7 linked regions of the Homo sapiens genome follow. The protein of the gene in region 1 purifies or fractionates together with the protein of each later gene. This does not show direct contact. Each region holds a gene or a part of one and is shown on either strand. Other genes may lie near its edges.

The links.
Region 2: the proteins of RNF38 (region 1) and GGCT purify together in Homo sapiens (affinity purification with mass spectrometry, with the first as the bait; one study listed by BioGRID). This does not show direct contact.
Region 3: the proteins of RNF38 (region 1) and UACA purify together in Homo sapiens (affinity purification with mass spectrometry, with the first as the bait; one study listed by BioGRID). This does not show direct contact.
Region 4: the proteins of RNF38 (region 1) and LUZP1 purify together in Homo sapiens (affinity purification with mass spectrometry, with the first as the bait; one study listed by BioGRID). This does not show direct contact.
Region 5: the proteins of RNF38 (region 1) and KRT7 purify together in Homo sapiens (affinity purification with mass spectrometry, with the first as the bait; one study listed by BioGRID). This does not show direct contact.
Region 6: the proteins of RNF38 (region 1) and LMO7 purify together in Homo sapiens (affinity purification with mass spectrometry, with the first as the bait; one study listed by BioGRID). This does not show direct contact.
Region 7: the proteins of RNF38 (region 1) and PARP4 purify together in Homo sapiens (affinity purification with mass spectrometry, with the first as the bait; one study listed by BioGRID). This does not show direct contact.

What each region holds. Positions count from the first base shown.
Region 1 is NC_000009.12:36,393,770-36,397,269, reverse strand, and holds part of RNF38 (E3 ubiquitin-protein ligase RNF38), read left to right. Parts: intron 1-1,782; exon of another isoform or gene 1,783-1,866; intron 1,867-3,500. UniProt on the Homo sapiens protein: Acts as an E3 ubiquitin-protein ligase able to ubiquitinate p53/TP53 which promotes its relocalization to discrete foci associated with PML nuclear bodies. Exhibits preference for UBE2D2 as a E2 enzyme.
Region 2 is NC_000007.14:30,502,030-30,506,128, reverse strand, and holds the start of GGCT (gamma-glutamylcyclotransferase), read left to right. Parts: upstream 1-1,299; 5' UTR 1,300-1,419; coding exon 1,420-1,560; intron 1,561-4,099. UniProt on the Homo sapiens protein: Catalyzes the formation of 5-oxoproline from gamma-glutamyl dipeptides and may play a significant role in glutathione homeostasis. Induces release of cytochrome c from mitochondria with resultant induction of apoptosis.
Region 3 is NC_000015.10:70,687,059-70,690,558, reverse strand, and holds part of UACA (uveal autoantigen with coiled-coil domains and ankyrin repeats), read left to right. Parts: intron 1-47; coding exon 48-105; intron 106-2,738; coding exon 2,739-2,809; intron 2,810-2,912; coding exon 2,913-3,019; intron 3,020-3,500. UniProt on the Homo sapiens protein: Regulates APAF1 expression and plays an important role in the regulation of stress-induced apoptosis. Promotes apoptosis by regulating three pathways, apoptosome up-regulation, LGALS3/galectin-3 down-regulation and NF-kappa-B inactivation.
Region 4 is NC_000001.11:23,086,194-23,088,856, forward strand, and holds part of LUZP1 (leucine zipper protein 1), read right to left. Parts: 3' UTR 1-2,663.
Region 5 is NC_000012.12:52,231,850-52,236,042, forward strand, and holds the start of KRT7 (keratin, type II cytoskeletal 7), read left to right. Parts: upstream 1-1,393; 5' UTR 1,394-1,447; coding exon 1,448-1,771; intron 1,772-3,305; coding exon 3,306-3,517; intron 3,518-4,193.
Region 6 is NC_000013.11:75,642,830-75,646,329, forward strand, and holds part of LMO7 (LIM domain only protein 7), read left to right. Parts: intron 1-3,500.
Region 7 is NC_000013.11:24,457,279-24,460,778, reverse strand, and holds part of PARP4 (protein mono-ADP-ribosyltransferase PARP4), read left to right. Parts: intron 1-642; coding exon 643-807; intron 808-1,468; coding exon 1,469-1,515; intron 1,516-1,656; coding exon 1,657-1,735; intron 1,736-3,500. UniProt on the Homo sapiens protein: Mono-ADP-ribosyltransferase that mediates mono-ADP-ribosylation of target proteins.

The sequences.
Region 1 (3,500 bases):
TGGTGACCAGCACCTGTAATCCGCTACTCTGGAGGCTGAAGCAGGAGAATTGCTTGAACCCAGGAGGTGAAGACTGCAGTGAGTCAGGATTGTGCGAGTCAGGATTGCGCCACTGCACTCCACCCTGGGCAACAAGAGCAAAGCTCTGTCTCAAAAAAAAAAAAACAAAACATATATATATATATATACACACACACATATATATACGTATATATACATGTGTATATACGTATATACGTATATACACACACACACACATATATAAAGCAAATTGTGACCGTTGTGTAGTGAGAGAATGATTTTTTTTTTATTCCTTTCAGTCTTTTTCATGTGTCATTTGTGTATGAGAACTGTTGAAGCTTAGAGATGAATGACTTAGAAATTTTGTCTTGGATCTCAAAGGGTAGTAACATCTCAGAGGGTCAGTTCTACCCAGTGTTTGGACCTCAGTTTTCCAGAACCAGGCTCTCGATTTTTTTTTTTAAAGAAGCTTTATTAAGTTATGTTTTATATACCATAAAATTCACTCCATTCAATTAGATTTTTTTGGTTACATTTTGAACATTTCTGTCATCCCCCAAAGATCCCTGTGCCCATCCAGGCCTGCCTTTTGCATAACTCTAAGCGTGCACAGTCCCATTCCTGTTTGCAGTGTTCTCTCCTGGACCAGCTTTGAAGAATGCCATCCGGGACTTTGAGTACCCCTGCTCCACACTGTCAAAATCCTTTCAGAGAACTCTGCTCCCAGAAAACAAAAGCCAAGGAAACAGATTTGTTTTAGGCCCAGTGATAGAACTCTTCTCAAAGGAAAGGTGACATTTAGGTCTAGTTTATTCTCAGAACAGGGAAAAAAAAAAATCCTAGCAAGGAGCACAGCATGCATCAGTAGCTCAATGATTTATTCTGCCTCAGTAGGATGGGGTGGACTTACTGGGCAACCACTGACTTCATTTAATGGTAACCTGCAGGTGAGTGCATCAGATCTCTTCCTTGATCAAAGCTTTTAGCTTGTCTCATTGCCAACCAGATTTCTAAGAAACTTGTTACACAAATCAGAAAGGCAGGCTGTTACATCATTTGCTTACAGTTTGGAAGATTATTCTTTTAATAAATAGTTGAATGCCTGCTATGTGCCATGTACTCTTCTAGGTGTTAGTGACATTGTGCTGAACAGGACATGGAGCTTATACATGTTCTCCTGAGTGTATGCTCAAGTCACCTCATTGATTTGGCTGCTCTATTTAATCTTTATAGGGAGTTCTCTGTTTTTCTTCCTAATATTCCAAGATAACTTTTTTCTTGAATTTATGAAGTCCTGTTCATATATAACCCTACCTTATGATCATAGCATTTAAATAATTTTCTCCTCCCCCAAGTAGTAGTGTTTCTGGTTGCTACTTTTTAATGGCTGCATAGTTCAAGCAAGTGTACCGTAATTTTACTTAGCAAGTATTTGTTAAACATTTAGGTTGCTTCTAGTTACCTTTTAAATTGTCGCTATTATTGTGCTGTGGTGACCATATTCATGCATATGGCTTTTCTCGTATTTTGGTATATAACCTGATAATTTGTCAGTTTAAATATTAGAGATTCAAACATGTTTTTTAAATTATTAATCTACCTAATTACTTCCAAGAGATTAACAGTTGCTATCATGGAAGTGGTGAGAATATTTGGAGTTTTGGATTTGACTTTATTTTACAGATAACCAGACTTGTAGCTAGAGGTGACACTAAGCACCTGACTCCTCATCTAATGTTTTGTTTTCGTCTTTTATATTAGGCTGTGATTTTAGTGCTTTTGACCGACCAGTTGGTATGCTGAAGAATGCTTTGTGGGCCTTCGTGAACACCTTATTTTGTAGAAGTACGTTATGTCATACTGGCTTAGAAGTCATGTACCTGTATCCTCTCTCTCACTTTTACTGGAGAAAAAAAAAAAAGGAAATGAACGAAGAAGGATGCTGTTGTCAGAAGCAATTTTAAATGTTTTGGGACAGTGTCTTGTCCTAAGTGCTAATTTTAGTGCGATAATTACTAATAATACCTGCAAGTCTCCAAGAAAAGTTAAATTGTTGGTTATGTTACCAAAACACAGAATGGCCAGATTAAACAAAGGATGTCCTAAAATAGTAGTGTTGATGCTTAAAAGGTTAAACTGTTTTCTGTAAACTTTAGTTTTGTGAAATAGGGTTTTCTTAGTTATGCTTAATGAATTAGTCATATGATTATATGGAAATAGACATTAAACATGATAAGTTTTGGGAGTTGCAGACTTAATGTGGTCTCAGGATGTTTCCTTGGCAGGACTTTTTAAATACAGGTTGCATTCTGGGAGAAAGCCAGAGTTAGCAAATCTGTAATGCTGAAAAGTTGCCAGCCTAGAGAAAAATTATATCAGTTTTCAGGAAACAAGTTTATTTTTAAGTACTAAAAATGGTTTTAAATAGGCCTGGTGGAATAGTTGATACTTACTAATCAAACTAGATTATAAAAAAGAATGTTACTTTAAAGTAGAAGGTGGTTTTGTGGGTTGAGTATGAACCTTAGAATTCGATAGACTTGAGTTCAGATTATGGTTTTGATATTTCTGAGGTATGTGACTTTAAGCAAGTCTGTTAAACCTGATGTTCAGTGTATAAAGATGGGAGAGCCCAGTTCAGTTTCTGGCATGAAGCTAGCTGTTACCAGATTGAGGCTTTAAAACCTGCTATACTGCTTAAATAAAAATGTGTTAATTTTTATATCTTTTGTAATCAAATCAGTGTAGCCAAAATTCTGGAGAAGAAACTTTTTCACTGTGGTACAATAATTTTTATTCAAGTTATATACATACACATTGTGTTTTCTGTAACAAATTACTACAAATTTATTTGTTTAAAACACAAATATTTCCTTACAATTTCCATGAATCAGGAGTCCTGGTATGGGGTTAGCTGCTGGGCCCCCAGGGTCTTACCTTGCAGGAGCTGTGATTTCTTTCTTTTCTTTTTTTTTTTGAGACAGTCTTGCTCTGTCGCCAGGCTGGAGTGCAGTGGCACGATCTTGGCTCACTGCAACCTCCACCTCCCGGATTCAAGTGATTCTCCTGCCTCAGCCTCCCAAGTAGCTGGGACTACAGGTGTGCGCCACCACGCCCAGCTAATTTTTGTATTTTTAGTAGAGATGGGGTTTCATCATGTTGGCCAGGTTGGTCTCTATCTCTTGACCTTGTGATCTGCCCGCCTCGGCCTCCCAAAGTGCTGGGATTACAGGCGTGAGCCACTGTACCCGGCCCAGAGCTGTGATTTCATCCGTGTCTCCTTCCAAGTTCACTGGTAGAATGTGGTTCTTGTGATTATAGGACTGAGGTCCCCCATTTCTTGCTGGTCGTCAACTGGTGACTGCTTTCAGCTCCTAGAAGCTGCCCTCAAGCCCCTGCCACATGGTACCTTTCGCATGCCTTCTCACAACATCTTAGTCTGAAGAATTGGCAAGAGAATCTCTTGGGAAGGACTCAGT
Region 2 (4,099 bases), on another chromosome or scaffold:
GTATTTCAGTTACCCCGAAATACAGCTGCTACTAGAAAGGCGGAATACCTGTTTGTTTTCTTAAATTATCACTTTGCAGAGTAAAGTTGGTGTAATAGTCACCACCAATAGTGTGGCAAATGAAGTTATAGTTTTTTTTTTAATTTGGATTACTCTTTGGGGGGAATGGCTTTTTTATGTTTAAAGTTTCCAATCATTTTTCAGTTTGCAGTCATTGTTATTTTTGATTCTCAAATTGTTCTAATTTTGGCCAGTGGGCAACTTCAGGCTGGTTCCCATGTCCTTTTAGAAGGACCTCGTTCGTCTTGAGAGGCGTCCTGAGCTTCTGACACAAGATGTTCCAAGTTGTCCTCATTCACTCCTAGCTCCTGACCTGGCATCAGTCATTTCTCGAAGGATCACTTGGTACCTTTTAGTGGGGGGTGGTATTTAGAGATTAATAGCTGGGTGTCAAGGATAGACAATGTTCCTATGCCCTTATGTTCATTCAAAAGTTAACAATATAGGTTTTAAAAAATACACCCAGGATGTGTGTGTGTGTGGGAGGGGGTAACCAAAACACAATATAGGGGTTTCTACTGTGACCCTAACTTATATTATGATCCCGATTTTTAAAAAGAGGAAACGGAGACCAGAGGTGCCCAAAGTTACTTGGCTAGTAAATGGCAGCGTCGGGATTTAAGCCCAGGCATGTAACTTCCATGTAACAGGGAAGGGAGTCCCAAGCATTCAGAGGGGCCGCTCCAGCAGGCGACGGGTCCGTGGAAAGGGGTCAGATTGATGACCAGTGCTGGGGGTGCCGGAACCAGCAGAAAGGGTGAACGGACCCGTCCTGCCCGACTCCTCTAGGCCAGGAAGGCAGGACCCGGCGAGCTGCCGGATGAGGGAGCCGTTGATGGAGTCGCCTGGGCCGCTGTTTCGCCTCAGATCTGACCAGAACTTCCTAAGGCACAGAAAGTACCAAAGAACCACACACAAGCACCCCAGAGCGAAGAAACCAGTCACGCGCCACGACCTTCAGCCAGTGTCCATGGGACCCGACCCGCCTGTGAGGAGTGCCTGTCCACCCCTCAATCAGAGGAAGCCTTGAGCAAGGAGGGGCGGGACATCAGTAGGTCGTGTCCAATGAGGAGCCAGCGCCGGATTGCTTCAGGACAGACTATTTCTGAGTCTCGGCGGAAGGCGGAGGGAAGGCCGTGGGGATGGCCAATCAAAGGGGGCGACTCAGGTCGGTGGGGACCGGCAGCCAATCAGGAGAGCGCTCGCTCCTGACTCGACCGGCCCACGCTTCCCGCCAGTCCCCTAACCCTGAGGCTGCCGCGCGGCGGTCACTGCGCCGGGGTAGTGGGCCCCAGTGTTGCGCTCTCTGGCCGTTCCTTACACTCTGCTTCAGGCTCCAGTGCAGGGGCGTAGTGGGATATGGCCAACTCGGGCTGCAAGGACGTCACGGGTCCAGATGAGGAGAGTTTTCTGTACTTTGCCTACGGCAGCAACCTGCTGACAGAGAGGATCCACCTCCGAAACCCCTCGGCGGCGTTCTTCTGTGTGGCCCGCCTGCAGGTGAGTGCCCCCTCCCGCGCTACCCACGCCGGGGCCGGGATGCCCAGAAGGCGCTTCCTCGGGGGCACACGTGGCCGATCGGGCCAGGAATGCAGTTCTTCTTGATGAGGGTACTAGGACGCGGCTTCCGCCTCCTGGGCGGGTCCACCTCCTCCGCTGCGCCCACTGCCCGGCCCTGCCCGGGCCACGGTGCCCTCTCGGGCTGCCTGGAGCTTTCCCCCTCCTGGCCTTTGCACCGGCTGCTCGGTCTGCACCGATTTGGCCTCTCGTCCACTAACTTAACAGATTGCATACAGTTGGTACTTCTGGAGAGTCTTCTCTGACCCGTGTCTGGGAATTGGTTGCCTTCTGTTCTGTACATAACCTTTGTTACAGCACTTCTCACCTGGCATTGTGAAAATCCGTTTACCTGCCTTTCGCTCCTCATCTAAGAGGTCCTGAAAGCTGGGACCATGTCTTATTTGTAATAATGCTGTGTTCAGTTAGGTCAAGGGGCTGCATGAACTATAACCAGTGTTGGTAAATCATTGCTCTTCAGCCCAGTCCATTCATTCATTTAGTACATATTCTTCCGGCACTTAACACTAAGGGTATAAACATGATTGAGTAAAGTGGCTGTTTCGAGGAACTCTCAGTCTGTAGGACAGAGGTGCAATAGATTATGTTCAAAACCTTTTTGACAGCGTCGAATGAGACAAACATGATCTCTGCTAACATCGTGAGTTCTTAGTTGCAAGCAACAGAAACTGGCTGATTTAAGCAAAAAAAAAAAAAAAAAAAAAAAAAAGAATGTGTTGAAAGGCTATTGGAGAGCTCACAGAATGACCAGGAAGGCAGGAGTACAAAGCTGACAAAACGGACAAGCATAAAGGGAGGCACAGCAACTGTAATACAGTGGGCATCACACAACAGAACCAGCCCACGGAGCCTCTTCCACGCCACTGCTGAACTTGGTAAACGTGGATGCTGTATTGTCCACCACCCCCTGCCCTGGACACTGCCTGCCTCTGTACATCCCTGCAGTTCCTGAAACCCAAATGTGTCAGCCTCTCTGGAGTCCCTGCTGTCTTGGGCACTAGCTTCTAATTGAAAGCCCCAGAATGTCCCGATTGGCTAAGTTTTGGCCACGTACCCATGCCGTGATTTTAAGCAAAACTGAGAGAACCAGCTTCTGGCCTTTGAAGCCTCAAAAATGGGAGTCAGGCTCTGATACTCCCTATTCCCAAACTCGTAAGGTAGGGAATTTCCCAACTGTAGGAAGGGAGTCCAAATGCTTACAGTCAGGGCAAGGGGAAGAGATATTAAACAAGGGATTATTCAGTTACAGGTATATGGTCCATCTTAAAAAGGAGGCATGCAAAGTGCAATGGGGCGTATGACCAGGGTACCTGACCTAACCAGGATGCTCAGGAAAGCCCTGCCTGAAAATGTGACTTTTAAGTTGAGACCTGAATGATTGTAGAGGTGGGGAGCACACAAAACAGGGAACAGCATCTTCTGCAAAGGACCTGAAGAAAGAGGAAGCTGGATCTTTCAGTCAGTGTGGCTGGAGTTTAGTAAGGGGAATGTGGCATGAAGACTGGAGATATGTGGAAGGGCCACATCTTCCAGGACCACAGAAGCCAAATAAGACACACTGCAGAACTAAAGCACATGAAAGATAGATTTCTATCTCCAAAAGCCCATTCTGGTCACATGGAAAATAGATTTGAAGGAGGGAAGAGTGAATGTGGAGAGTTCAAGAAGTTTTTGCAGCAATTTATGCCAAAGATAATGAATGGCATCTTGAACTAGGGTGGTGGCAGGGCAGGGTGGATGGATTTGAGAACTAATTTGGAGATAACATTGTTAAAGCATAGTGATTGAGTGTGAAGAGAATACCAAAGATGACTCAGGTTTTTGGCACCAGGTAGATGCAGGTGATGTTTGCAGAGAAAAGAGGAAAATCCGGCTTGGGAGGAGAAAATTTTAAGTTCAGTTTGAACATTTTGAATTTGAAATGCTTGCTAAACAGTCAAGTGAACAGAATAATATTAGCAAACATTTATTAAGTACTTACTGTGTGCTAGGCCCTGTTCTAAGCACTTCTGAAGCTCAGAAGAGAGATCTGGTCTGGGTTTAAAGATGATCAGAATATTTGAAGCCATTGGAGGGGATGAGAATGTCTTGAGCAAATTGCCAAATGAATAGAGAAAATGGCCTAGACCATGGGTGTCCAACCTTTTGGCTTCCTTGGGCCACACTGGAAGAAGAAAAATTGTCTTGGGCCACACATAAAATACACTAAAACTAATGATAGCTGATGAGCTAAAACAAAAACAAAAACAAAAAAAAGGCCCATGCATAATTTTTGTGATGTCCGCCACCACAGGTAAGCAAAAAAGTTCTTGCATCCAAAGGGTTGGACACCCATGGCCTAGACTGAGCCTTGAGCAACTCCAACATTTAAAAATCAGGTAATGGAGGAGGAGTTGGCAAAGGGGATTGAGATCAAGGAACAGCCTGAAAATCAGGAAAGAGGCAGATCAGGAGAAGGTGG
Region 3 (3,500 bases), on another chromosome or scaffold:
TTAAAATAAAACTCTCCTACTTTACTAAGTTTTCTTTACTTTAACAGTACAATTGTCCCACTGAGCATGCAGACCTGCAGGGAAGAACTGCACTTCACGATGCCGGTGAGCAGTGGTTTCCCTTGGATACAAATATTTGTTAAAATGTCTAGTCATTTGAATTAATTTCAGGGTTTTAACACATAGATATTTATATAATTCATGGAGAAACAAAGAATATTAAAAACCTGTTTGCACAAATTAGAGATTTATTAGATTATACCGCTTAAAAAGATTCATTCAGTCAGTATTTACAGGCCAGTCAGCTTGCTAGATACTAAAGGTACAAAGGTAGATAAACTATAATCCTGCTCACAAGGAGCTCCAAGCTGTGTGTGTGTGTGTGTGAGAGAGAGAGAGAGAGGGAAACAGAGAGAGAATGTGTGTGCGTGTGTGTGTTTCATGTCTTTGGGAATTGGAGAAATGGGAAGAAGACTTTCCTTAAACTATGTTTACCTAATTAACATGTCTGAACCTCTTTTTTCTCATTTGCAAAATGAAGTTAATAATACTACTGCAATAAGTAGTATTAATAAGTATAATCAAATCATAAGTAGTGCCTGGCACATAATAATTTCTTAATTAATGGTGGTAGTTGTTTTCCTTTAGAGATGTCAGTGCTGAATTTCATATCACTGTAATGTGCTATATTTTAAAAGAGATTTATACTGATTTTTAGAGATTTTATTATACTTGTGTGTCTAAATTTATTTGCATTATTCTTTAGGTGTCTTAAAGAAAGTACTTTGAAAAAAGTTATATATTTAGGTATTTTTGGAATGTAAGATAGCCTGACCTCTTGCTAAGTCTGATATTCCTACATTTAACTATAAGGCCAAAGGAAAAAAAACAGTCTACTTTCTCTTTTCATGTATATGGAATATATGCAGTAGATTAAGGTGGTCTGCACTGAAGACATATTATACTTCAAATTTCCTTCAAAATTTTATACCTTAATTTTTAAAAATTTTGCTTTTTGTATTTTATTTGTATGATAATTTCTCACACAATGCATTTCTTTTTTTTAATATAGAAGGGTATTACTGTATTTGCAAAGCATTTTTCCATTATCATTTGAGCCTCACAATGACCCCTGTAAGTTAACCATATATTTTATTATCCCTGCTTTAAAAACTGGTACAACTTGACCAATTGAAATCTTTATACTTATTAGTTAGATGCATTAGCTAGGATGGAAACTAAGTTGCTATAACAAAAGAACTCCAATATCAGCTGCTTATTAAAAAAATTGTTGAGTGATATATATTGACAGGTCACTCATGGTCATTTTAAAACTGAATTCTTTCTATCTTGTTTCTCCACTTACCTGTGAGTATCTTCCTTAACTGCAAGGTTGAAGCAGAGTTGTGGTCGTAGCCGTATTCTAGCTAGCAGGAAGGAGGAGAGAGCCTAGTGGAATACATGCCCAAAGTCTGGAACTCAGACTTGGAAGTAGTAGATTATTCTCCATTCATATTCTACTGATAGGAGCAAAATCAATTGGCTATATTTATCTGCAAGGGAGGCTCAGAAATAAACTCTCTAGGTGACTAGTCATATTCCGAAACCTACTCTATAGTAGAAGAAGAGGAGAACAAATTTTGGTAAAATACTGCATTTTCTGCTACAGTTCAACTCTCTGGCCTTCCAAATATCTCCAAAGCCCCTACTTCCCACATACTCCCAAAGGAGAGGATATATAAACAAACTCATTTACTTCATCTAGCTCAAAGTCTAGGATTTCTGGGTGGTTTGCAGTTTTCTCTTTTTGGCTTTAAGCGGTTCTTCATGATCTAGTAATCTGTAAACTCTGGAATTTATTATGCTTTACATTTTTAAATTCTCATTTATAATTGGACGTAAAGGGTCGCTAATTTTACAGTTCCTGAATTAATGTTTTCAGGTTCAGTTTATCTTTTTCTTAAAGCTGATGATACATTTTATATAAAAGATTTGCTGGATTAGAGACGAAAAGTGAAAATTTACTTGATTTTCTTATGTTTGGTTTAATTCTATTATTTCACCAATAAAAAAAAGAATGCTCACTTTGTCAGTACTTTTTGTGCTTATAATGTATGTCAACTCATAAGGCTTAAAAAATTCATGGGGATTGTAAACATAATCCTACTTTATGAATTTAACAATAATTTTTCCTAATATAAATATGAACTATAGTGTTAGTCAAAGAAGCATAATGTGATTTTATAATTATTAGCAAAATGACCTTACTTTGCATAAAGGTAGACATTGCAATCTCTGCTTTTATGAGAAATATGAATTGTATGATTCATACTTTACTTACTGTGACTATTCTATAAAAAATGGATATGATTCTTTAAAAAAACTGAGCCAACACTTCAAGGATCAAGTCAGTTATAGCCATGTTTAAAAATATACTGTAAGTACAAAATTTAGCTTTGATTTTTATTGTCTGTGCTTATCCTTAGAATAGTAGTGTGTTCTTGTCTTCTACAAGGTTGACGTTATTCCTTGGTCCTAATAAATTGTAGACAATTTATAATCTTGTCTAATCCATTTTCAGATGAAAAATTGTGCTTATAATGCTAAACTAAGAGTGAAGGACGTGAAGCTTGGTAATTTAGAAATTGAAAAACTTATTCCTTATATGGACCTAGAAAAACACTATGTGTCTTACCAACAGATGTTCACCATTTATCATTTTCTTTTGTTCCTTAAAGCAATGGCAGATTGTCCTTCTAGCATACAGCTGCTTTGTGACCATGGGGCCTCTGTGAATGCCAAAGATGTAGTAAGTTAGTTTATGTTTATTCTCATTTCAACTCATGCATTCTAACTTCTACATTTTGGGAGATCTGTTGTCTTAATGCTGTTTTATTTTTCCTGTTGCTTAGGACGGGCGGACACCACTTGTTCTGGCTACTCAGATGAGTAGGCCAACAATATGTCAACTGCTGATAGATAGAGGAGCGGATGTTAATTCCAGAGACAAACAAAACAGGTAATTCTTTTATCATGGCTCCCAGATACCAGCTGGATACACAGGGATGGAAAGGCCAAGTCAAAGCAGCAGCTCTGTTCTCTGACTTGGCCTTTCTTTCCTGTGGGTTCTCCCCTTCCCTGGCTTGCTTTTCCTTGGAATTAACATCTACTTGTCAGTTTTCTTCAGAGTCTGCTGAAGAAAGAAGGAGAGGGAAATAGAGGAAGATGACAGGGTTAATGTGAATAAAAGCAGTGATTAGGCCTTATGTTTGGATCAAAGAACTGAAGGAGAGAGGAATTACATCCCAGGTGTTTTAAGCTTAAAAAACTCTTTAATGAAATGGGTGCAAGTAAGATACATAGGAGAAGAATTTAAAAAGTACATCTGTAGTTACTTCTTCATTAGTGAATCTTTTGAGTAAAGTGGTTCTTGAGTGTTCTGGAACTTGACATGTGTCAGTATAGATTTTCTCAAGGTGTTTTCTCTCCTTACTCTGCCA
Region 4 (2,663 bases), on another chromosome or scaffold:
ATTTGAGAGCCAGCCTTGCCAGCCATTTGAAGCCCAGAGAAACAGCCTCCAGCCTTTACTTGCTATTACAATGTTATTTTCTGCAATGCTGAGGACACTTAAAAATAAAATCTATCTAGAAAGTGTGCAGATTAAAGAAACAAAATATCCTGAAATAACTGTTACAAGCAAATCCTATTGCACTCAGATTTCAAGATGGCAGCCCCAGCAAAAGGGCATCACAGCTGTCCCTCTTCAACAGGACATTTTGAGTAGCAGCAGATGTTGGTGCTGCTGAAATGTGGAAAGATCCAGACTTTGGCACCAGGAGCTATAGCACCAGAATCCAGGGCTCCAACACTCAAAGACAAGAATTATTGGCGAGATCTTTTTAGGCATGGCTTGGCGCCCTTCTGTTTCCATCAGCAGAGAAGAGCCACAGACTTAGTTTCCTAATACCTTTAGTTGACCACCACAGAGGTTGATTTTCTTTGAACTCTCAAGGTTGCCAACCAGTGAAGGAGAATGGCAGGGAGGCTGCAAGTGAAGGATGGCAGCCTTGAGTGAGCTAGTTTCTGGCCAGTAAGCCAGGAGAAGCAGCAGTAAGAGATCTTGGAAATAGCATCTTGAGCATCAGAGGTGGGGATGTGGACAGGAAAGGCAGGCCACATGACAATGCCTTTAGATTGGCAAAACTCTGGGAAGCAGAAGTATGAGCAATAGATTCCTGTCCCTGAAAGTAAGGTAGGTGCTCCCCAAGCCTCCTCACTGCCAAATCTGATACAGACAAGGTCAGGATGAACACTGGTTCCCATGCTGAGTGAAGGCAGAGAAGACAAATTCCTCTGGAGGAAGTCTTGAGTCTTCCTCTTGCCAGGAAATTCATAGGAGATGCACAGGAACAGGAGATACACAGACTTGGGTACTTTCCATAATACCTAGACTCCTAGAACGCCAGGAGATACTGTGTGGCACTGGGCAAGGCTGATGCCACAAAGAGCCTCAGAGACCATCCCATCTAATCCCTTCACACTTTGCAGATTGGGAAACAGGCCCACGGAGCTTCTCTGAGCTCATCCCCATGAGATTAAAACATACAGAAACTAAAAAACAAGGCCCAGAAAAACAATTGAGGGCAGGAGGGAAGAACCCACACGGATGATACCTTCCACAAGCAAAAATCATCCCATACTATTATAGATGGTGAAAACAGGAGAACCTTAGAATACCAGATTTGGTGCCCTTAGAGATCATCCATTTCAAAGAACTCATTTTACAGACAGGGAAACTGAGGCTCCAAGAAGACAATGACTCACCCAAGGTCACACAGCAAGGAAGTAAAGCCATGGGGAAAAAAATCCAGCTTACCAGACTGGTAGTTTAATGTTCTCTCATTCTGAGGGCAATAGTGTCTACTTCATAAAGGTAGCCTTTGAAAGAGGATCCCTTCTTTGAATTGACAGAATGCTAAAGAAAAAGCACTGCCAAGAATATACAATTCTTTTCAACTTCCCCATGTGACTGGTATAAGGAACCTAACCAATTTATTTACGTGGCTTTCTGAAAAGTTTGCTGCATTTTGAACTATATAAAGCTGAGGCCCTCAATGCGTATGTACGTATCACCTTTCCTCCAGCGAAGTCATCATGATAGTCGACTTGCAGAAATCCGGGGCCCACTTCTGTAGGAATGCATCAGCTTGGTAAAGTGCGATGCCTCCTCCATGGGGGATGGAGAAGGAGGAACAGGAGGGAGTAGTCTCACAGTCCATGCCTCTCATGGAGCTATTGCTTGTGGAGTGACTAAAGGGGTCTGCTTTCCCTCTTGCTGGGCACTTCCTAGAAGGCAGAGGATGCTGGGTCAGGCCCAGCTTAGCCTAGGGATTTTCCCAAGGTGGAAACAATGAAGTCAGCTTGAAGTCTCCAGCCACTGGAGAGAAAGCAGGCGATGCCAGCAGCATTACTGGTGCTCAGGAAAGGAGATGCATGAGGCTTGCACCTCCAGGTGCCTTTGGAAGGTGAGCAGAGAGAGCTGGGGTTGGGGAGGGATGATGTCATTCCAATGGGTATCCGCATGAGTATCTGCATGCTCTGCTTCCAGGAGACTGGTAAGCCAGGAGCCAGGTCAAACTTCAACCTAAAGGGTAGTCTCATAATCCTTTAGAGGCAGCACAGACCCCTTTCTGCTTTAAGTCTGAAGAAAAGAACTCCAAGGGGAAAGAAATGAAAGCCCCCTAGATAGAGCTGATGGCTGGTAAATCTTATGGGGTACTTGAGCCCATTGGGCAAATGAGGAGTGAAGTGGATATAGTGAGGAGACTGAGAAACCAGAACATTAACCACACAGACAGAGGCTGCCCTAGGATCCAGAAACAACCCACCAAGGAGCCGAGAAGAATTTTTGACTCCTGCTGTGTGCTGGGGACTTTATCTTCCCTTGTTTGGGGGCCAGAATGGTCCAACTACTTGGTGGACAGGGACAAGGAGAGAGAGAGGACTCGTGCATTGGGGAAGGTTGGGCCTGGGTGACTGTCCAGCTTGTAGTCTCTGATTCCCTCTGGCCAAATGGCAAAAATTACCTGAGCCACAGCCCGGCTCTACCACAGTTTTCCAGCCAAGGCTTGTGTCTTGCCTGGTTAACTGGCCTTGGATCCTTCGTGGGGCAGGACGGTGGAAGAGCTGAGA
Region 5 (4,193 bases), on another chromosome or scaffold:
CTTCACTAAGATCACTGAGAAGGAGTGACAGTCTTTAGCCTCACTGGAAGTCCTTGTGCTTTAACTGAAATGGCCAAGCAGGAAGGACATTCCGTCCCCACCCTTGTCTCCCCCAAGGGCTTAGGTCTGAGGTAACGAACCTGGCCAGCTTATTGGGAGGGGCTAGAGGTGGGCTAAGGGCAGACGGAAGCCAGGCCTGAGAACAGGGTGTGGCAAGCATGGCTGGCCCTACCGGGAAGTGAGGCCAACACTCAGGCTTTGTCCGGTATTCGGTTCCAGCACTAGGATTACCCCTCTTGACTGGGTTTGAAACTGCTGGGAATTGTTTGGTGGTGGCTTCACGGGAGAAAGATGATGAAAGCTGAGGGCCTTTAAACAGGAAAATGGTGGAGGGAGCGGGAGGAGAGTTGAGTGCTAACAGAAGCACACGCACTCAGGCAGGCATGAAAATGTGTGCCATTGTGTAGCCACAGCTGCCCCCTCGCCCAGGATGCACGCACAGACCCCCATCTGTGTAAGCAGGCTCAGACATGCGGGTGCATATGCCTGGGGGTGTGAGCACAGCAGAGCCCAGAGGCCTGCAGGCGTGTGCACACATCCACAAAGTGTCCACACATCCACAAAGTGTCACAAATACACACAAGTGTCCCCTTCCTGTACAGGGACGCATAAAATAAATGGGCAGGAATATGAGTGGAGGGTCCGGGAGGTGAGGGTCCAGGGTAAGCATTCCCAAGGTCCCTGGGATTCCGATGCCTACTGGAGTGGGGAGGGGAGGAGCCAGAGGTGCGGTCGGTCGTGTGTCTCTCTCAGCCTAGTTTCTATGGGAAATGAAGTAGGAAGGAACGCAGCCAGGGAAACTAGCTGGGCCAGGAGGGGTCAGACCCCTGAACAAGTGAGCTGATCTCTCAAGGAGGAGCTGGATCGGTGTGAGGGAGAGCGGTAAGGAATGCCTTTCTGGCTTCAGCAGCCTGGAGGATGGGGACGTCTGGGCGTTGACTCCTGGGTTGGAACTTTTCAGCCCACCCCTTCCCCCAGTCTCTTGCCACTGGGTCTCTCTGCTTGGGCCTCAGGGATCTCTAGGTTCTTCACTCCCTCTCCAAGCATCCTCCTCCGGGAAGCCTTCCCTCACTGAGTCCGTTTCCAATGGGCTGGAACTGCGGTCCCCCGCTGTTCTCTGCGGCCGTCTAGGGATGGCGCTCCTGCCTACTCCGGACCATCCCTGCTTGGACTGAAAGCCTGGGCTTCGGCGGGGCGGGCGGGCAGAGGGCGGAGGGCGGCCCCAGGAGGGGCCTGGCAGCAGAGAAAGGTGGCCCGCGGCAGCCCCGCCCCTACCTGTGGAAGCCCAGCCGCCCGCTCCCGCGGATAAAAGGCGCGGAGTGTCCCCGAGGTCAGCGAGTGCGCGCTCCTCCTCGCCCGCCGCTAGGTCCATCCCGGCCCAGCCACCATGTCCATCCACTTCAGCTCCCCGGTATTCACCTCGCGCTCAGCCGCCTTCTCGGGCCGCGGCGCCCAGGTGCGCCTGAGCTCCGCTCGCCCCGGCGGCCTTGGCAGCAGCAGCCTCTACGGCCTCGGCGCCTCACGGCCGCGCGTGGCCGTGCGCTCTGCCTATGGGGGCCCGGTGGGCGCCGGCATCCGCGAGGTCACCATTAACCAGAGCCTGCTGGCCCCGCTGCGGCTGGACGCCGACCCCTCCCTCCAGCGGGTGCGCCAGGAGGAGAGCGAGCAGATCAAGACCCTCAACAACAAGTTTGCCTCCTTCATCGACAAGGTGAGCGGGACTGGACCTCGCCTCTCCTCGAGCCGCGCTCCAGACCACACCAGCCGCCCTAACTAGCCCTGCCTGCGCGCGGGCCAGGCGCTGGGGAGCACTGCCGCCCTTCTGTCTTTCCGCCAGTGTTGGGGACACGATCTGGGGGTCCTTCCTCCTTCGCATGAACCCCGTGGCTATTTTATCCCCTCGGTTTCCAAGCCCTCCCTTCCAGCAAGCTGCCCAGCTGCCCCTCCCTTTCCTCCCGGAGTGCGGGCCTGAGTCCTGTAGGGCTGCCCTCGCTGGCTGCCTGTTGGTCACCTGGACCAGTTTTGCCTCGGACTAGGAGTTCCAGAGGCCTAGGCCAGGAGTTCTCTCTCTGGGACCCTTTCCCTGAGAGAGGACCGTGTGGAGTCAGGAATGGAGTTGGATGGCACGCCCTTCCCAGAGGGGGAGACCCAGGCTCTCTCAGATGCTGATGCGGATGCAGATGCTGGAGATTAGAGCGGCAGTCGGTGGGGCGGGGGAGGGGGGGGGGCTCCCGCCCCTCCCCTCCCCCACCTGCCTGGTCCTCCAGCCTCCCTTAGGTGGCAGGAGGAGAGGTTATACCTGCCCTTGAAGACAGCCCAGTTGGGGGCAGGGAGTGGCAGAGAGGGCCCTCAAAAAGGGGTCCATTTTGGAGATATTTTTCCTGGCTGTTGGCCTCCGCCACACATGGGGCCGCTGGAGGGGGCGAGGGCAGACTTGACTGGTGGGTTTGGGAGGAGTGCTGCCAAAGCCAGGAACTCAGGGCTGGCCCTGCTGGGCTGTTCTGGCCAGGGCCCCCTTCCTCAGCTTAGACGAAGTGTACTCCCACACCCGCCTCCCTCACGTTCTCCTTTCCTTCGCCATTCACCCAGACCGGTCTTTTAGATTTCATAGGGGCCTCCCCAAGCTGCTCCAGGCCCAGGTTCCCCCATGTGTTGAGCTGCACCGTCTTACTCTCTGTGGTCCCCAGGGCCTGGGGCCCTGAGCTGCTGGTTTTGCAGAGGCCTCTATTGCCTCCCACCTCCAGTCATACCGGCTACTCCTTAAGGGCCTTTGTGGGCTCCAGGCTGGGGTCATTTTACCATGGATTGACTGTCCTGAGGCCTTGCTGGAGAAAGGGGAAGGAGAGAAAGGATATTGAGGAAGGAAGAGAAGAGGTCCCAGACAGAAGGGAGGGCTGGGCCTGGTCATCCTCATGATCCATTGACAGGAAGAGGTGGCTGTTCAGATAGGGAGGTGGAGAACACCACCTGTAATGTGATGGGGAGTGAAGTGGAGAGGAGGCCCTGGAGCACATTCGTCGAGAGTCAACCACGGGGCACTTCCGTGCACCAGGCAGACCTGCTTCCTGGATCACTCTGTAGGACACTTGATTTGGAGTCCAAAGGGAGAGGGCTGGAAGCCCCAGGCAGGGAAACAGCCAGGGGGAGCATGGCTCTGCTAAGTGGCTAAAGATGATGTTCCTCAATCCCGCTGTGGGTGGCACGCTCTGGCTCCTCTTGAGTTTCCTCCTTCTCGCCCGTTCTAGGTGCGGTTTCTGGAGCAGCAGAACAAGCTGCTGGAGACCAAGTGGACGCTGCTGCAGGAGCAGAAGTCGGCCAAGAGCAGCCGCCTCCCAGACATCTTTGAGGCCCAGATTGCTGGCCTTCGGGGTCAGCTTGAGGCACTGCAGGTGGATGGGGGCCGCCTGGAGGCGGAGCTGCGGAGCATGCAGGATGTGGTGGAGGACTTCAAGAATAAGTAATGCCCCCTGTGCCACATGCGAAGACCCCTGCCCCGGGCCAATGTGACCCTCATGAGCTGACCCTGTGCAAGTCCCCCTGCTTCAGGAATCAGCATGCAGCTGCTCAGTCCAATAACTCCCTGAGGGGCCAGTCTTGACCAACACATTTCCTGCCTTTCCTCTCTCCTCTTTGTCCCTGGGGGCTGTTTCCAAATCATTCTGGTCTTTTCCCCTGACTCAGTCCCAGTGAAATGTCTCAGCCCAGCCCTGACCTGCACTGTCTCCTTTGGGTGTCTGACCAAGGCCCCGAGAGAGAGTAGGGCAGAAAGTGTCTTCTGACAGGGGTGCTTCAGAACTGGTATGACCTTCACAGATTATTCTAGAGCAACTCTCTTTTGTTCAGGTGAGGAATTAGAGACCAGAGAAGTTTAGGGACTTGGTTGAGCTCACACTGCAAAGGTCACTGGGAGAGCTGGGACTTGAATTTTAGGTCCCTGACTCCTAGGAGAGGACACAGAGCCAACTTGGGAAGCAAAGAAGCAGAGAGGGAAAATGGTCATTGTGAGCCATGCGAGGGCCGCAGAGGCTGAGGGTGGGTCTGGTCATGGCAGGAGCCAGAAGGAGGCTCAGGAAGGCTGGGACTGGGGCTTTTGAGGACAGGTCTTTTTGCACTCTTTTCTCATTGAATAGAAA
Region 6 (3,500 bases), on another chromosome or scaffold:
CATGTTGTCCTATTTTTTCTCAGATTATTAGTGATATTAAACATTTATGTAACAAATGACCCATTGGGTTTCCTCCAGTGAGGAAGGATGAAGCTGAGAAAAGGAGGGTTCTATTTCCTCTTAAGCCACAAAAGGTTCAATGAAGTCACAATTGGCCCTTGCGAAGAAGCCTTGAAACCTTGGTGTTTCTTAAGCCATTTGTAAAGCACAAATCCTTAAAACTTCTCCTAGGCTTAGAGAAAGAGGAATGGTGTCCTGGATTGGACCCCAGGGAGTATGCCGATTTATTCAATCTGTGTTGGTTCTTGTCTTTCGGTGCATTGCTCTAGCTCTCTTTCTCTCTGGATGCCGAGAGTGCTTTGGGTAGTGAGGGACTGCTGTTGAGACTAAACACTCCTTCACCTTCCCTCTTCCTGTTAAGACTGGTTCTCAACATACCAGCATTTGAGTTATAGAAACACACTAGCTTTGTGAATGCTAGTTAAGAAAAGCAAAGTGACATCAACATATTTGCCCAATCCTTTTAGTTTGGAAGAAATACACCTTGCAGGTGAACTCGTTCTTCTAGTTAGCATCTGCTGATTGAGTTGTTTATGTTGTTCCTGTTCCCCAGAGTTCCTGACAGAATGTTCCCAAATACTTGTTGAATGAATGAATGTTTTGTGTCCAATAAAAAGGTTGGCCTATTTAATTGATGTTTCCAGATCTCCTTAAGCCTGTTAACTATCAAAAATGTGTTAGAGCCTGAGGAAATGAGGAATTATGCATACCTGTACTTAACTCTTTAGTTTCAGAAGGTATTAAATAATTATTGGTTGTATATCTTTGAAAACATGTTTGATGTAGTCAAAGCTCTTAATAGGGATAATAGCTGTCATATATGCACAACTTTGAAACAGAGGTTTAACACATTCAATCTGTGGCTTTGCTTAAAGAGATGGACAATAGCAAGTTCTACTCTGGTGAATTACAGCACAGTCCCATGAACAGCCTTTCCAAAGATTATGAAATACCCCAGTAGTATGCTCAAAGACTGGTTCTCATTACTGGGTACAGAATGCTCAGTTTGGTGCTTGAGTGCATTTTTATGTTGGTATACAGCACCTGACCCTCTGTCTGTCTTCAAGCATAATGGGGATTGTCATGTAGGAGAGATTAGGAAATTTTTGTATGGATTCAGAGGGCAGAACTGGTAATAACTGGTCACAGTGAGACTTTTGACTCAGTATTCTGAAGATCTTTCTATGAATATAGCAGTGCCCTACACTACATGAGCTGACTTGAATAGCGAGTTACCTGCTAGTGAAGTGTTTTTTTTTTAAGAGAAGCTGAAAAAATGACAATAAAAGCAGCTAGTATTCTTGAATTTCTACCACATGCATGACATGTGGCAAGTGCATTATACCCACATATCTTATAATGGACTATTCTTACTGAGGATGTTCTTTTCCAATGAGGGAAAAGAGGGGTGAGAGGTAAAATAATTTACTCAAGGAAACACTAGAAGTAGTAAATGCTGGCTGAGGATCCGAATGCCCACAGCCTGCCATCTTAGTCATTATACTCTGCTGCCTGGGAGTGGCGCTGGCCAGGTAGTTCATCATTGTTAAGGAATTAAGAATCAGAAAAGAATGGGCTCTCCGTCCTTGTTCCACCTAAAGCTGTAAGATTAGCTATTTTTTGTACATGACAAATCCTATACAACTTCCGCTCACCAGCACAAGTTATTTCTTGTGATGTTAGTGCCGTATTAGTACATGATCATCAAATATATGTAAGTTACAGAATTGCCAACAGATATATTTTTTTCTTTTTTAGAGACAGGGTCTTGCTCTGTTGCCCAGGCTGGAGTGCAGTGGTATGATCATAGCTCACTGCAGCCTTGAACTCCCGTGCTCAAGCTGTCTTCCTGCCTCAGCCTCTGGAACAGCTGGGAGACTATAGGCACACACCACCACACCCAGATAATTTAAAAATTTTGTTGTAGGGACAAGGTCTCGCTTTGTTTCCTAAGCTGGCCTTGAACTCCTGGCTTCAAGCGATCCTCCCACCTTGGCCTCCCAACCTGTTGGGATTACAGGTGTGAGCCACCATGCCCAGCCAGATGGACACTGTTGAGCAATTGCCGACTTTAGGTTTATATATTTGAATGTATGTTAGTGATTGTTAATGTTCAATAAACCATTTAAAGTGTTAAAAAAGGAAACATTTTAATATAACATTGAGTTATACTTTGAGCTAGAATAGGAAATAGATATCTAAGTAGTTTCTTCTATAATTTATAAAAGTATCATCTTCTCTCATGTGACCTACATTTCTGTAGTTCGTGCATACCAGAAATTGTACAGATGGTTATTGTATAGTGCTTCAAAAATACATGTCATGTTTTTGATTAGGATACTTTTTAGTTAGTGTTTTAGGCTTGTTAGTACCAAAGCTGGGACCCTGATAAAATTTTTTTGCCTCCTTGACTAGATTGAAATTTGATCTAGATGTGTGAACAGGGAAAGAAATATCTGAGTTATTTTGTTATACCACCATTTCATAACATTCAAAGGAAGGGAGGTCATTGCCAGTCTCATTATAAACTTTCATTCTGGCTTGACCCAGAAGTTTGAGGCTGCGGTGAGCTATGATTGTACCACTGCACTCTAGCCTGTATGACAGAGCGAGACCCTATCTCAAAAATAAATAAATAAATAAAATTAAATAAATAAAGGAAGTTCATTGTGGAATTAGTTTTTCTCATGAGATTTAATGTTTTAATGTTTTTCATTTTACATGAAGAAGGGGACAATAAGCAAACGTATTGCCTCTGGACCAGTATCAAATGCATTTGGAATTTACCCTGTGTTATGAAGAAAATATTGTCAGTCTATCAAAAGCATCAGATAGAGTTGGTGATGACTTCCTTCTCAAACCCTTCATTGCCCTCTAGGTTTTTCTTCCATTTCACTTGGTGTTTCTAATTTTTCTGTGCTCAGTCCTCCTAATTATTGTTCATCAGTGAATGTTAGAACATCCAAGGACTCATCTTCCATGTCTTCTTTTCTTTGCCTACAGTATCTTTCTAGCAGATGTTATCAAGTTCATATATCTTCTCCACGCTGATTGCTTCCATATTTACATTCCTGACCCTGACCTTGTCCCTAAATTTTAGTAACTACTTGAGATTTCCCACTGTAGGTCTGATAAGCATGTCACGCTCAGTGGGTTCTAAGCAAAACTCTTAGTACTACCCCTTTCCCACCCCTTCCTAATCATCTCCTCATCTCTCCAATGTTTCTATCTTAGCAAATGGCATCATTGTTCAGCCAGTTGCTCAGGCTTCCAAATTTGAAGTCATTATTGACTCTTGTTCTTTTTTAACATCATACCACACATCCAATCTGTGAAGAAATCCAACAGGCTATATCTTCAAATGGATCCAGAATCTGACCACCTCTTGCCACATCCACCATCACCTTTCACCTATGCTGTTGCAGTAGCCTGGACTCCTT
Region 7 (3,500 bases), on another chromosome or scaffold:
GTTTCAAGGCTACATTAAGCTGTGACTGCACCACTGCCCTCCAGCCTGGATGACGGAGCAAGATCCTATCTCTAAATAATGAATAAATAAAAATAAAAATAACATGAGAAATTACCATAGGGTAAAATAATTAAGCAAGGGCCAAGCTTAGAAAAAACTGCCCTGGTTCTACAGCTGCTGGCAAAAGTGGTGTTGGGTGCCATGGAGGTCAGGGAGGGTCTTCAAGAAAGGGCTTTGTGGAGGCCATCTGTGCAGCAGAGCCCACCCATGCAGCAGAGCCCACCCATGCAGCAGAGCCCACCCGTGCAGCAGAGCCCACCCGTGCAGCAGAGCCCACGTGTGCAGAGAGCTCACACATGAGAGCCCCCTGGGGCAGAGTCCATGAGTGCCTCTTCCCAGTTCCGCTGCCAAGGGGGCCCCTCTCCATCTGCCTGCCACGGACATCACCCTGTTCCCACCACTGGTGAATGGCTCCAGGATTCTCCGTTAGCCCCACCAATGTGTCTTTTAGGTTTTATTACTGTTTTCTGAGGAAGAATTTGGCAGGTTGTCATTCAAGTTGCTTAAGAAGTACGTGGAGTTAGCTGGCATATAATGGGTATGCTTTCAAGTTGGAAGCTAAGTCATATGTTTCTGTTTCAGGACGTTTTTACTGTAAGTGTTGGAAACTTACCCCCTAAGGCTAAGGTTCTTATAAAAATTACCTACATCACAGAACTCAGCATCCTGGGCACTGTTGGTGTCTTTTTCATGCCCGCCACCGTAGCACCCTGGCAACAGGACAAGGCTTTGAATGAAAACCTTCAGGTTTGTACGCATAAGATTTGAAGAAGCATTTTGGCAGCAGTGGAGGGGGAGTGGTGGAGGGCTGTGGAGGAATTTATGCCTGGGGAGAAAAACATGTAAAATAATCTTTTAGGCATAAAGTTAATTTTACTGACATGCATTTAGATACATTATGTGTATAAAATGAAAAGAATAAAAGTTACAGATATGATCAATAAGCATATTTTTATTCTGCTTAATCACTCAAAAAATGTTATATCTGTAGTGCAAGTTCATCATGAAGAACTAGATAAGCATAGAGAATACAAATAAGCCAAAATAAGAAAATTAAAACCATCCTTTATCCCATTGCCCAGAGTTAATGGTTAATACTTCGGTATATCCCTCCAAACTTCCTACTTTGTATGTACAGCACATGTATAAAATGTGTGTGTGTGTGTGTGTGCGTGTGTGTGTGTGTATACACACAGACATATGTAGAGTTTAAAATCTCTGTCAAAATGGTGAGTTGTATTTTAGAAGTTCCTGTCATTCCATGAGCAAACTTTCTGTGTTTCACTGCTTGAAAGTGAAACCAGCTGTCTTGCTGACAGTTGTGGCCTTGCCAAGATTACATTCACTTTAGTCTCATTGTGAAACTTAATATATGCTTAGTTATACAAATGTATTTTTCTTTTAACAGGATACAGTAGAGAAGATTTGTATAAAAGAAATAGGAACAAAGCAAAGGTTAGTACCTAAAATATAAAACCTGTCAATTCAATGGATATTGGTTTTCTGGTTTAAATTTCCATTTAGAATTGTTTGAAATAATTTCAGATAGAAATTTAAGATCGTAGACTAAGACAACTTTCTCTTCATTTTTGCTAGCTTCTCTTTGACTATGTCTATTGAGATGCCGTATGTGATTGAATTCATTTTCAGTGATACACATGAACTGAAACAAAAGGTTAGTGCATCTTTGATTTCTTAAGAGCTGTTATTTTAACACTACTTTTATCTTATCAAAGCAATGTATGCACGTGGTTGAAAAGTGAAATAATGCTGACAAAACTTCTAACAAGAAGCACTACTCCTGCCCCTGATTCTCCCCAGACCAGTTTCCAGAGACAGTGAATCATTTGGACTATTTGAGCTGTTTCTTTGATTTTGCCTCCAATTTTTAAATATTAATTTTTAATGCTTTTTCTTGATTTCGCCTGTTTCAGAAATTATCTTTTGACTTCCTGTTTTGGAAGTTGGACGTGTAGCTCTTGCCCCCTCCACCCACCTAACTCACTACTTTTCCTCTCCCCTTCATTCCAAAAGACCTGTTTCACAATAGTCAGTGATTATCATGTAAATGATGTTTACCACTGAGCCAAGAAATGTATAATATTATGATGAGTTTTTTTTGTTTGTTTTGTTTTATTTTTTGAGACAGGGTCTTGCTCTGTCACCCAGACTAGAGTACAGTGGTGCAGTCATGGCTCACTTCATCCTTGACCTCCTTGGATCAAACAACCCTCCTGCTTCAGGCTCCTGAGTAGCTAGGGCTACAGGCCTGTGCCAGCACACCTGGCTAATTAAAAAAAAAAAAAACTTGGCTGAGTGCGGTGGCTCATGCCTGTAATCCCAGCACTTTGGGAGGCTGAGGTGGGTGGATCACGAGGTCAGGAGATCGAGACCATCCTGGCTAACATGGTGAAACCTCGTCTCCACTAAAAATACAAAAAATTAGCCGGGTGTGGTGGTGGGCACCTGTGGTCCCAGCTACTCGGGAGGCTGAGGCAGGAGAATGGCGTGAACCCAGGAGGCGGAGCTTGCAGTGAGCTGAGATTGCGCCACTGCACTCCAGCCTGGGCGTCAGAGCGAGACTCCATCTCAAAAAAAAAAAAAAAAAATTGTAGAGACAGGGTCTCACCATGTTGCCCAGGCTTTTCTCAAACTCTTGGGTTCAAGGGATCCTTTTTGCTCTGGCTTCCCGAAGTGCTAGAATGACAGGTGTGAGCTACCACACCCAGCCTATTTTCCTTTTTAGAATTCTGCAGGAACTTCAGACCTTCTCTTTATCTCTGGTATTCTGAAATTTCATAACAGTATGATTTTCATTCATTGTATGTAACTGGTGGTCTTTAGTTCTGAGAAATTTTATTGTATTAAAAAAAAGTTCCTCTCTTGTGCCTTTCTGCAGTGCCTTTCTTTTTTTCTTTTTTCTTTTTTTTTTTTTTTTTTTTTTTTTTGAGACAGAGTCTTACTCTGTTTCCCAGGTTGGAGTGCAGTGGTGGGATCATGGCCCACTGCAAACTCCACCTCCTGGGTTCAAACGATTCTCATGCCTCAGCCTCCTGAGTAGCTGGAACTACAGGTGCCTGCCACCACGCCCAGCTAAATTTTCTATTTTTAGTAGAGACGGGGTTTCCCATGTTGGCCAGGCTGGTCTCAAACTCCTGACCTCAGGTGATCTGCCTGCCTTGGCCTCCCAAAGTGTTGGGATTACAGGCGTGAGCCACTACATAGTGGTGGAGGAGTCCTCAGTAGCAACAAGAGAGTGCCAGGCCCGTTGCATGGACACTTTTCACGCCCCTGCTTGTATCTCATCTGCCAACATATCATTGGCCACAGCAAGTCCTTTGGCCAACTCCAGTTTCAAGGGTGGAAATATAGCTGCTGCCTCGTGGCAGGAGGAACTTCAAAAGTCACATTGCAAAGGGGCACGCAGACAGGAGTGGAGA